Linked DNA regions of Homo sapiens. The protein of the gene in region 1 purifies or fractionates together with the protein of each later gene. This does not show direct contact. Each region holds a gene or a part of one and is shown in the gene's direction. Other genes may lie near its edges.

What was found.
Region 2: the proteins of MICALL2 (region 1) and LCN1 purify together in Homo sapiens (affinity purification with mass spectrometry, with the first as the bait; one large-scale study listed by BioGRID). This does not show direct contact.
Region 3: the proteins of MICALL2 (region 1) and PPP1CB purify together in Homo sapiens (affinity purification with mass spectrometry, with the first as the bait; one large-scale study listed by BioGRID). This does not show direct contact.

Annotation. Positions count from the first base shown.
Region 1 is NC_000007.14:1,438,939-1,442,589, reverse strand, and holds part of MICALL2 (MICAL-like protein 2), read left to right. Parts: intron 1-105; coding exon 106-398; exon of another isoform or gene 399-1,427; coding exon of another isoform or gene 1,428-1,905; coding exon 1,906-1,999; intron 2,000-2,504; coding exon 2,505-2,665; intron 2,666-3,594; coding exon 3,595-3,651. UniProt on the Homo sapiens protein: Effector of small Rab GTPases which is involved in junctional complexes assembly through the regulation of cell adhesion molecules transport to the plasma membrane and actin cytoskeleton reorganization.
Region 2 is NC_000009.12:135,524,357-135,527,108, forward strand, and holds the end of LCN1 (lipocalin-1 isoform 1 precursor), read left to right. Parts: exon of another isoform or gene 1-146; coding exon of another isoform or gene 147-473; coding exon 474-575; coding exon of another isoform or gene 576-751; exon of another isoform or gene 752-775; coding exon 776-801; coding exon of another isoform or gene 802-802; intron 803-1,987; coding exon of another isoform or gene 1,988-2,161; 3' UTR 2,162-2,184; downstream 2,185-2,752. UniProt on the Homo sapiens protein: Could play a role in taste reception. Could be necessary for the concentration and delivery of sapid molecules in the gustatory system.
Region 3 is NC_000002.12:28,758,227-28,761,877, forward strand, and holds part of PPP1CB (serine/threonine-protein phosphatase PP1-beta catalytic subunit), read left to right. Parts: intron 1-3,651. UniProt on the Homo sapiens protein: Protein phosphatase that associates with over 200 regulatory proteins to form highly specific holoenzymes which dephosphorylate hundreds of biological targets.

The DNA of each region.
Region 1 (3,651 bases):
CTGGGCATTGGGAGTGAGCTGCAGGGAGGCAGAGGGGCGGCCTCGGGTGATGGTGGGAGGGCGCCTGGATCCAGCTGTGCCTGATGCCTGCGCTTTTACTTATAGGCCCTCCCCAGCCACTGCCGCTGTTCCCAGTTCTCAGCCCAAAACTGAAGCACCACAAGCAAGTCCCTTAGCCAAGCCGTTACAGTCCTCGTCTCCCCGGGTGCTTGGCCTCCCTTCGAGGATGGAACCGCCAGCCCCGCTGAGCACGAGCAGTACCTCTCAGGCATCCGCGTTGCCCCCGGCAGGCAGGAGGAACTTGGCGGAATCCTCAGGGGTCGGCAGGGTGGGTGCTGGCTCCAGGCCGAAGCCAGAGGCCCCGATGGCAAAGGGTAAAAGCACCACCTTAACGCAGGGTGAGTAAGGGGCTGGGAGGCAGGAGGCCCCGGGGGCCCGCAGCTCTGGGACTCTCCCCTGGCCGCACTCTGCAGTGTGTGCGGTTTCATCATCAGCCCCGCCCGCCTTCCTCTCCGTCTCATCTCTGTCCTCCGTGACACCTGCTCGCAGCCTCCTGGGGTCCTGGTGCGCTCTCTGTGTGGTGGCTGCAAATGTCCTCAGGGCTATGCTGTTTGCCGGCACCCAGCCCACCCCATCCGCACGTCCTGCAGGTGCCTGCAGCCCAGCCCTGCAGCGTCCCGCTCAGCTCGGTCTGGCAGTTACATCCTGTGGCTAGCAGTGGCCTGGCTTGGCCGTGGTCTGTGGGGCCTCCTGTTCTCCCGTGGTGTTTTGCGCTTCCTGCCTGTCGCTTTGACAACGTCGCGCTGTTGCTGTGGCACCCTGTGTCACCACATACCGGAGATGGTGCCCTATGCCCCGTCCCCCCTGTGGTGTCCCGGTGACGGTGCCCTATGCCCCGTCCCCTCCGCTGGTGTCCCAGTATGCCCTGTCCCCCTGGTGGTGTCCAGGTGAGAGCGCCCTGTGCTCCGTCCCCCCCGGTGGTGGTCTGGTGACGATGCCCTATGACCTGAGGGCTCTGGTGCCTCCTAGGCTGGGAGCTCTTCCTGGGGGCTCCCTGGACCACACAGTCCTGTTTTATGGCCTCACGTGTTTTCGGGAACAGGGAGCGAGCTTTCTTCTAGGCAACTGGCTGTCACCCACCAGGGGTTAGCCCCCTGGGTGATCATGGCCAGGCTGGGCAGGACGTGGGCTTAGGGCTTGTGAGGCCAACCCTGTGCCAGCTGGGAGGCCCAGGGCACTGGGATGGCCAGGCTACGCAGTGAGCTGTCAGCTGTGCCAGGACAGACCCCAGGCTCCTGGCGGCCCTGCTTTGATGCACGGCTCTGTCTCCCAACCTGGGGGCAGCCGAGTCCCCCCGCCTCGCCCCACTGCAGGAAACTGGCTGTCCCTGCCACCTGGGTGTGTGTAGAAAAAAGCTAGAGGTTCCCATGGCTTTATCGAGCTGGGCTCAGGGAACAAGCTGGGCTGCAAAGGGTTTTTCCAGATCCTTCTCTTTGGCTGAGTTCTCATTGTTAAAGCCACGCGCTGGATCCTGCAGGACCCAGGAGCCAAGAAAGCCTGCAGACGGGCAGCCGTGGCTCAGGTGTTCCCCTTGCACAGGTGGACAGAGGATCAGGGTCCACGGGGCTCACCCTGCCACGTCCCCACCCATTCGGCAGAAGGGGAAGTTGAGGCCCAGAGGCAGGGAGAGCTTCCCCCAGGGACACACAGCACAGGAGAGCCAGCTGGGAGCCCCTCCCCTGACTCCCTGCCCGGTGCTCCTGATGCCCCCCGGCCGGCTGGCTGTGGGGGTGTCTGAGGGTGGAGTGGCTATGGGAAGATGGCAGGGGGAGGCACAGCCACCCTTGCAGACACCCCATTCCCAGCACTCCTTCCTCACACCCAGACCCCTTGCCTCCCACCCAGACATGAGCACCAGCCTCCAGGAAGGCCAGGAGGACGGGCCGGCAGGATGGAGAGCGAATCTGAAGCCCGTGGACAGGAGAAGCCCAGCTGAGAGGTTAGGGATGGGTGGGGCTGGCCCAGGGCCTGGTACACCATAGGTGCTTAATAAATGCAGTGAGTATGTAATCGACCGATTGACACGCCTATCCAGGGATAGACGCACCTCCCTGTGAGTAGCAGAGGCCAGGTCACCCCTGCCTGAGGGACATGGGGGCCGCTGTCCCTGGTTTGGGGGCAGCGTTGCGTGTCTCACCTGGGCATGGCAGCACCCGTGTGGGTTCACGCACCATGCCTGCAGCTGGGGTGGAGTCTCCCCATGTGTGGGTCCCGTGGGGCCCGGAGCTCACGCCTGGAATCTGCTTCGCACCACGGCAGGTAGCGATGGACACGTGTGTTTGCAGGAGGGTCCCAGCAGGTGTAGTCAGTGGGCTGGGAGGTGGCATTTGCTCAGAAGGCCACCTGCTCCCTCCGGCTGGTCTGCATATGGCCTGGGAGCCCCTCCAGGTGGGCCAGGCCCTGGGGCTGGTGGTTCGGGTTCCGACCTCATGCCTTCTGCCCAGGACTCTGAAGCCCAAGGAACCACGGGCCCTGGCAGAGCCGAGGGCGGGGGAGGCCCCCAGGAAGGTCTCAGGCAGCTTTGCTGGGAGTGTCCACATCACCCTGACCCCCGTGAGGCCTGACAGGACCCCACGCCCAGCCAGCCCAGGACCCAGCCTCCCAGGTACTCCTGGACGGGACCCAGGGGCCCCCGGGTTGCCTAGCTGGCCCTCCCCCTTGGGTGGGGGCCCCGGGACTGGACCTGTAGTGCCACCTCCTGGGGTGTGCGGAGAGGCGCTCCGGTCAGCCAGAGAAGCTGGTAGTCCTGGGCAGGCTTGTGTGTACATGTGTGCATGTGTGTGATGCATGTGTGCATGTGTTCATGTATGTGATGCCTGTATCCATGCGTGATGCATGTGTGCGCATGTGTACATCTGTGTTCATGTGTGTGATGCATGTGCACGTGATGCATGTCCATGTGTCTGTTCATGTATGTGATGTGTGATGCATGTGTATTCATGTGTACATCAGTGTTCATGCGTGTGATGCATGTGTACATGTGTGATGCGTGTCCATGTGTCTGTGTTCGTGTATGTGATGCATGTGTGCCCACACGTGATGCATGTGTCCATGTGTACATCTGTGTTCATGTGCGATGCATGTGTGTCCATGTGTACATCTGTGTGATGCATGTGTGTGCAACCGTGTTCATGTATGTGGTGCATGTACCCATGTGTGGATCTGTTTCATGAATGTGATGCATGTGTGTCCACGTGTGCACCCGTGTTCGTGTGTGATGCGTGTGTGTGCACACACATCTCTGTGTGTATTCCTAGCACTCATAGCTGCCCTGGATCCATATCCAGCTCTCGTGCCACTTCCTGTGTGACCTTGAGCAGCCAGCAGCCCCGTGGGTTAGCCCCCTGGGGAGACATGGCCAGGTTGGGCAGGACGTGGGTGTAGGGCTTGTGATGCCAACCCTGTGCCAGTCGGGAGGCCCAGGGCATGGGGATGGCCGGGCTACCCAGCGAGCTGTTGGCTGTGCTGGGACAGACCCCAGGCTCCCAGTGGCCCTGCTCTGAAGCGTGGCTCTGTCTCCCCACCTGGGGGCAGCCAGGTCCCCCTCCCCACCCCGCCGCAGGAGACTGGCCGTCCCTGCCAGCCTCGACG
Region 2 (2,752 bases), on another chromosome or scaffold:
AGTCTGCATGGAAAGAACGTTCCAGCTCCCGGGGTTGAATTCCGGACGCGGTGCCTCCCACAGATGGTGACTCATCAGTGCTGTCCCTGTCAGAGGACGAGGCCCATGAAGGCTCCTGAGTTCTCCCTGGAGCCAGGGGTGTGCGAATGACAGAGGATTGGGATCCTGGTGCCCCCAAGGGGAGAGGCGCTTCCTCCAGGGTGGGCCTGTCGTGCCGTCCATCCTCACTCCGGGAGATGCTCAGGGATGGATGGAGAGCCCTTCCCGTTCTCCCGGTTCTGCTGCCACAGGAGCCTTCTCAGCCGTGCACGGCACCCTGGTCCCACTTTGCCAGCCTGAGGGCCTCTGGGTTCAATTCCCCCCACGGTGGGCGAGGTCCCCTTCCCCAGCCCAGCTCAGGCCTCCAGACTGGGATGGGGTGCCGTCGGCCCAGTGCTGCCTCGAGCACCCACATCTCGTCCTGGCACCCACAGGCAGAGACCCCAAGAACAACCTGGAAGCCTTGGAGGACTTTGAGAAAGCCGCAGGAGCCCGCGGACTCAGCACGGAGAGCATCCTCATCCCCAGGCAGAGCGGTAGGAGGCATGGCCCTGCAGAGCCCCCCATGTCCCCGCGTGGGGACATCAGCAGAGCTGCATTGCACGGGCGCATAACTGTGCTGCGTCTAATTCTGGCTTTGTCCTTCCTGGGGTGGTGGAGCTGGTGGCTGATGAGGGGCCCCGGTCCTGACTGCATTCCTGGGGTCTCCTAACGCCTGTGCTTCCTTTTCCTGCAGAAACCTGCTCTCCAGGGAGCGATTAGGGTGAGTGAACAGCTTTAGAGGACATTTGAGAAAATCCAGTTCTGGGGCTCAGTGGTGCTTCCAGAGGCCATGGGGTCTCTCCCACCCATCCCACTCCTACCTGGGTGGGAGATGCCCCACGTAGGTCAGGCAGGTGGGAGCTCTGCTCCTGAGCTGCCCACGCTCGGGCGTCAGACTCCGTTCTTGCCCTGGGTGTGACTCCTGGGCAGCTGGGAAGCCCACAGCGCTGAGCCCGCCTTTGCTGGCTGCTGGTGGAGACGGTGTCTACCCCCCAGTCACATGGGCAGGAGCAGGCAGGAGATTCGGGTTCCTCCTCAGCACCCCTCACCCTCGGCCATGCCTGTGACTCCACTTACCCGATAAGTTGCTCAAAGATTCAGCAAAGTGGCAGGCGTGCCTGTGCTCGCTGTGTCAGATGGGCCCCTTGCTGGCTGCACAAGGGGACCAGAGTTTGGAGACTCGCCCAAGGTCACCTGCCCAGGTGTGGGCAGAGCCAGAATCCTGGACAGCATCGCTGTCCTTCCCGCACCCTCCCCTTGGCCTGCAGTCACCCTGATGCCACTTCACTCAGCAGGGAGCTCTGTCAGCAGCCTGCGGGGGTGGTCCCTGCTCCATCCGCTCCAATCTAGAGGCTGGAGCCCCCACCTGCAGCCCCCAAGAGTCCGTGTGTGCCCCCCACACCATCGCCCCCAAGAGCTCGCATGTGCCCACCACACCATAGCCCCCTAGAGCCCGGTGCACGTCCCCCACACCATTGCCTCTGAGATCCAGCACGTGCCCCCGCAACCATCGCCCCCGAGAGCCCGCATGTGCCTTCCACCGTAACCCTCAAGAGCCCAGTGTGTACCCCCACCATAGCCCCCGAGAGCCCACATGTGCCCACACACCATAGCCCCCGAGAGCCCACATGTGCCCCCCACACCATGCCCCTGAGAGCCCACATGTGCCCCCCACACCATCACCCCTGAGAGCCTGCTGTGCCCCCCACACCATAGCCCCCGAGAGCCTGCATGTGCCCTCCACATCACAGCCCCCAAGAGTGCAGCGTGTGCCCCCCACACCATGCCCCTGAGAGCTCACATGGGCCCCCACACTGCAGCACCCAAGAGCCCACATGCGCCCCCACATTGCATCCCCCTCCCACCCTTGCTGTCCTGGCCTCACTCACCCTCCCCCCCTTTCCAGGGCAGGGGACACCTTGGCTCCTCAGCAGCCCAAGGACGGCACCATCCAGCACCTCCGTCATTCACAGGGACATGGAAAAAGCTCCCCACCCCTGCAGAACGCGGCTGGCTGCACCCCTTCCTACCACCCCCCGCCTTCCCCCTGCCCTGCGCCCCCTCTCCTGGTTCTCCATAAAGAGCTTCAGCAGTTCCCAGTGACTCCGCCTGTCTGTGGGGTCCCTCGGGGTGAGAGGTGCTGGCTGGGTGCTCTTTTGGGTGCAGGGACTGGGTGGGAAGCAGGAGGAAGGACAGGGAACCAGCCTGGACCCAGTTCTCCCTGGTGGGTGCCACAGGCCAACAGTGGGAGGGGCCTAGCAGGGGGGTGTGTGCTGGAGGCTGGGCCTGAAGGTCCCGGGGTGCTTCCTGCAGGTCAGCCGCCCGCTGAGCTCAGGCTGTAGGGGTTGCGGGGGTGGGGGCAGGGCTCCACTCCTCGGTCCTGCACAAGTAAGACCGGAAGGCCTGGGACCAAGCGCAGCTGCCACCCAGAGGGGACTGGGCAGAGCCACCAGTGCCCTCAGCACTGATGCTGAGTCCGTGAGGCTGGACGTGGGGGGAGGGGACAGCAGCTCAAGGCAGGGTGTGGCTCGGGCTTGAGCTCACCGGGGAAGCCAGTCCTGTCCTCCGGGGAGCCACACCAGCACTGCCCCCAGAGCCTGGCTCCACGCTGTCCCTCTCTGTGCCTGGGTAGGTTTGGGACAGCAAGTTCCCAGCTTGGGGGCAGCCACCA
Region 3 (3,651 bases), on another chromosome or scaffold:
ATCTTACTTTGTTGCCCAGGCCAGTCTCAGAGTTCTGGGATTACAGGCACCCAGCCCCATTTTCAAACATTTCTAACAGGTAAAGTAATACAGGTATGAAGGAATGTTAAGATTCTTAGAAATACTGACTTAAATTCTGTTATGTATTTCTGAAAGGTTATTCTCGAATGTTGGTGGCATATAGGGAGGCAAGGGGAAGAAATAGTTTGTAAATGTCAGTAGGTTTAGCAGTGGTGTGGTAGATGGGGATTCCCAGTGGAGTCTTCTAGGATTTGTGATTGGATACAGATTGATACCCTTAGGCAGCAGCCACTGCTTCTAGCAGCTTTAAATAGCCATTTCAAGGCTTATTCAAGTATAAATAACCAGTAGCCAGTTTTTTCCTGATTTGATAGAGGAAGTCAGTCCTTGGTCTAGATGGGTACTTGTCATACAGTAGGAAAAAGGGCGGGGGCAGTTGTCCTTTATTCTGCCTCTGCACTATTCACATGTGGAGCACAGTGATTTGTGAGAGTATGTATAACCTTCGTGAACATCACTGGCCTCAGAACCCTCCCTTGCCAAATTTACCTGCATCTGTGCAAAGACAAGTGGAGATATTGATGATATGTGCATATCCCAGAGGGAATAGCGTTTGCTTTTTGATGCATGCCCACCCTTGCATAATTGGGAGGTTTTAACATAGCATATTTCACCATAAAGGAATTTTATTCTAAGAATGTTAATCAGAATATCCCTAAGTAACAGAAGTTCCCATCTGGTCAGTTGCAAGGTGACCAAAACACTTTCTTGGTTTGAGTATAGTCATATGTTCTGTCAAATGATGTTTTGGTCAACAGTGGACTTCATGTAAGGTAGTTAGTGGTCCTGTAAGATTAGAATGGAACTGAGAAATTCCTGTCACTTAGTGACATCATAGGCATAATGTCATAGTGCAATGCATTACTCTTGTTTGTGGTAGTGCTGGTGTAAACCTATTGCACTGCCAGTTGTGTAAAAGTACAACAGGCCACGCGTGGTGGCTCATGCCTGTAGTCCCAGCACTTTGGGAGGCCAAGGCAGGTGGACCACTTGAGGTCAGGAGTTCGAGACCAGCCTGGCCAACATGGTGAAACCCCATCTCTACTAAAAATACAAAAATTAGCTGGGCTTGGTGGCATGCATATGCCTGTAATCCCAGTTACTCAGGAGGCTGAGGCAGGAGAATCACTTGAACCTGGGAGGTGGAGGTTGCAGTGAGCAAAGATTGCACCACTGCTCTCCAGCCTGGGCGAAAGAGTGAGACTGCATCTCCAAAAAAAAAAAAAAAAAAAAAAAAAAGTATAACACAATTATATAGAGTACATAATACTTGATAATGGTAATAAACAGCTATGTTATATATTTACCTTTTTTTTTTCTTTTTTTTGAGACAGAGTTTCGCTCTTGTTGCCCAGGCTGGAGTGCAGTGACGCGATCTCAGTTCACCACAACCTCTGCCTCTCAGGTTCAAGTGATTCTCCTGCCTCAGCCTCCTGAGTAGCTGGGATTATAGGCGTGCACCACCACACCTGGCTAATTTTTTGTATTTTTAGTAGAGACGGGGTTTCACCGTGTTAGCCAGGATGGTATTGATCTCCCGACCTCAGGTGATCCGCCTGCCTCGGCCTCCCAAAGTGTTGGGATTACAGGCTTGAGTCACTACGCAGGGCCCTGGAATATATTCTTATTTTAAAAAACTAGTTAAAACCGACTCAGGCATGTCCTTCAGGTGGCATTCCAGGAAAAAAAGCTTCGTTATCCTGGGAGGTGATGGCTCCATGCATGTTACTGCCCCTGAAGACCTTCCAGTGAAGATGTGGAGGCGGAATATAGTGTTACTGATGATCCTGACTCTGTAGGCCTAGGCTAATGTGTGTGTATATGGCTTAGTTTTTAACAAAAGTTTAAAAAGTGAAAAATATTTTTAAAAATAGGAAAAGGCTTAATAGGATAAGGATATAAAGAAAATATTGTACAGCTGTATGATATGCTTTTGTTTTAAGCTAATCGTTACTAGAAAATTCAAAATGTTTAAAAATTTTTTTAAGTTTCTAAAGTAAAAAATGTTAAGTAAGCAAAGGTTAATTTATTCTTGAAGAAAGAAAAATATTTTTATCTTTATTACTGTATATACATTGTGCCTTTTCTGTGTTTAGATATGTTTAGATATACAAGCACATTGTGTTACAGTAGCCTGCAGTATTCAGTACAGTAACATACTGTGCATCATGCTTTGTAGCCTAAGAGCAATAGACTATACCATCTAGGTTTGTGTAAGTCCACTCTGTGATGTTTGCACAACAACAAAATCACCTCACTGTGCATCTCTCAGGAAGTTTCCCTTTGGTAAATGATGCATAACTGGACTTGTCTGACACCATTTTAACCTTCCCCCTAGTCCTACCTCTCATTCTCAAGATTTGGAGAAATCAAAATCTAAGTTTTCATAATAAAAGGTTAGGTATATTGGGTGTTACATAGCTTTCACTAATGTCATATCTAGCAGTTGTAATCACGTATTTTAAAACTTTAAATAGTAAATTAAGAAGGAATCTTTATAGGTACTTGTATGTTTCCTCAATGTGGTTTGAATTGAGCGTTTTATTTAAATTACTATCAAATACTTGAGCCAAACTAGCGAGACAAAAAGACCAGACCTTTTCTTTTTTCCGAGATGGAGTCTCACACTGTTGTCCAGGCTGGAGTGCAGTGGTGCAGTCTCGGCTCACTGCAGCCTCCGCCTCCTGGGTTCTAGCGATTCTCCTGCCTCAGCCTCCTGAGTAGCTGGGATTACAGGCGCCTGCCACCATGCCCAGCTAATTTTCTGTATTTTTAGTAGTAGAGATGGGATTTCACTAAATCTCGAACACCTGACCTTGTGATTTGCCCACCTTGGCCTCCCAAATTGCTGGGATTACTGGGGTGAGCCACCGCGCCCGGCCGAGACCAGACTTCTGAGGGGGAGAAACTTGCAAACCTGTCAGTGAGAAAGAGTGAGGTCTGATTTTAGATGACAGAAAGGAATAGCTTTTGTGAATTTCGGACTCCCAACTACTAGAATTATGTGAATCCTGAATGATAATCAGATGTTTACTCAGTTAAGTGTTTACTCAAATATTAATAAGTATTGATACATTGGGATGCCATCTTATATAATGATTAACGACACAGATTCTGGGTGTATTTCAGCCCCAGTTTCTTCTGCATATATGATAGTAAGTGCCTTCAAACAATTCTTGACACATTAAAGGTCAGAAAATGTTAGCCGTCATTATTGCTTAGTACAAACCTGAGCTAGGAAATACTAACAGAGAGCTCTTTGTGCCACTGAGTCCTGGAACTTCCCCATACTAATTTTGAGAAGGCTTTCTTGTAAGTATGTGACAGATACTGTTTCCTCCACTTTCTGTTTATTGCATATAACCACTATTCTTGTATGTAAGTACGTATAACAGTTTCTTTACTATTCCCATTATTCAGCGTTTATAATCTGGTTTGACATATCAGTGTTGGTGCTGAGAGGGAAAGGTATTTCTAGGTAGGATAAAATGGTGAAAAGTGATTTAACACTGTTGTATGCTTGCTTTTGGCCAGGAACTATAGGGCAGTGTATCTTAAACTTTGAGTCTT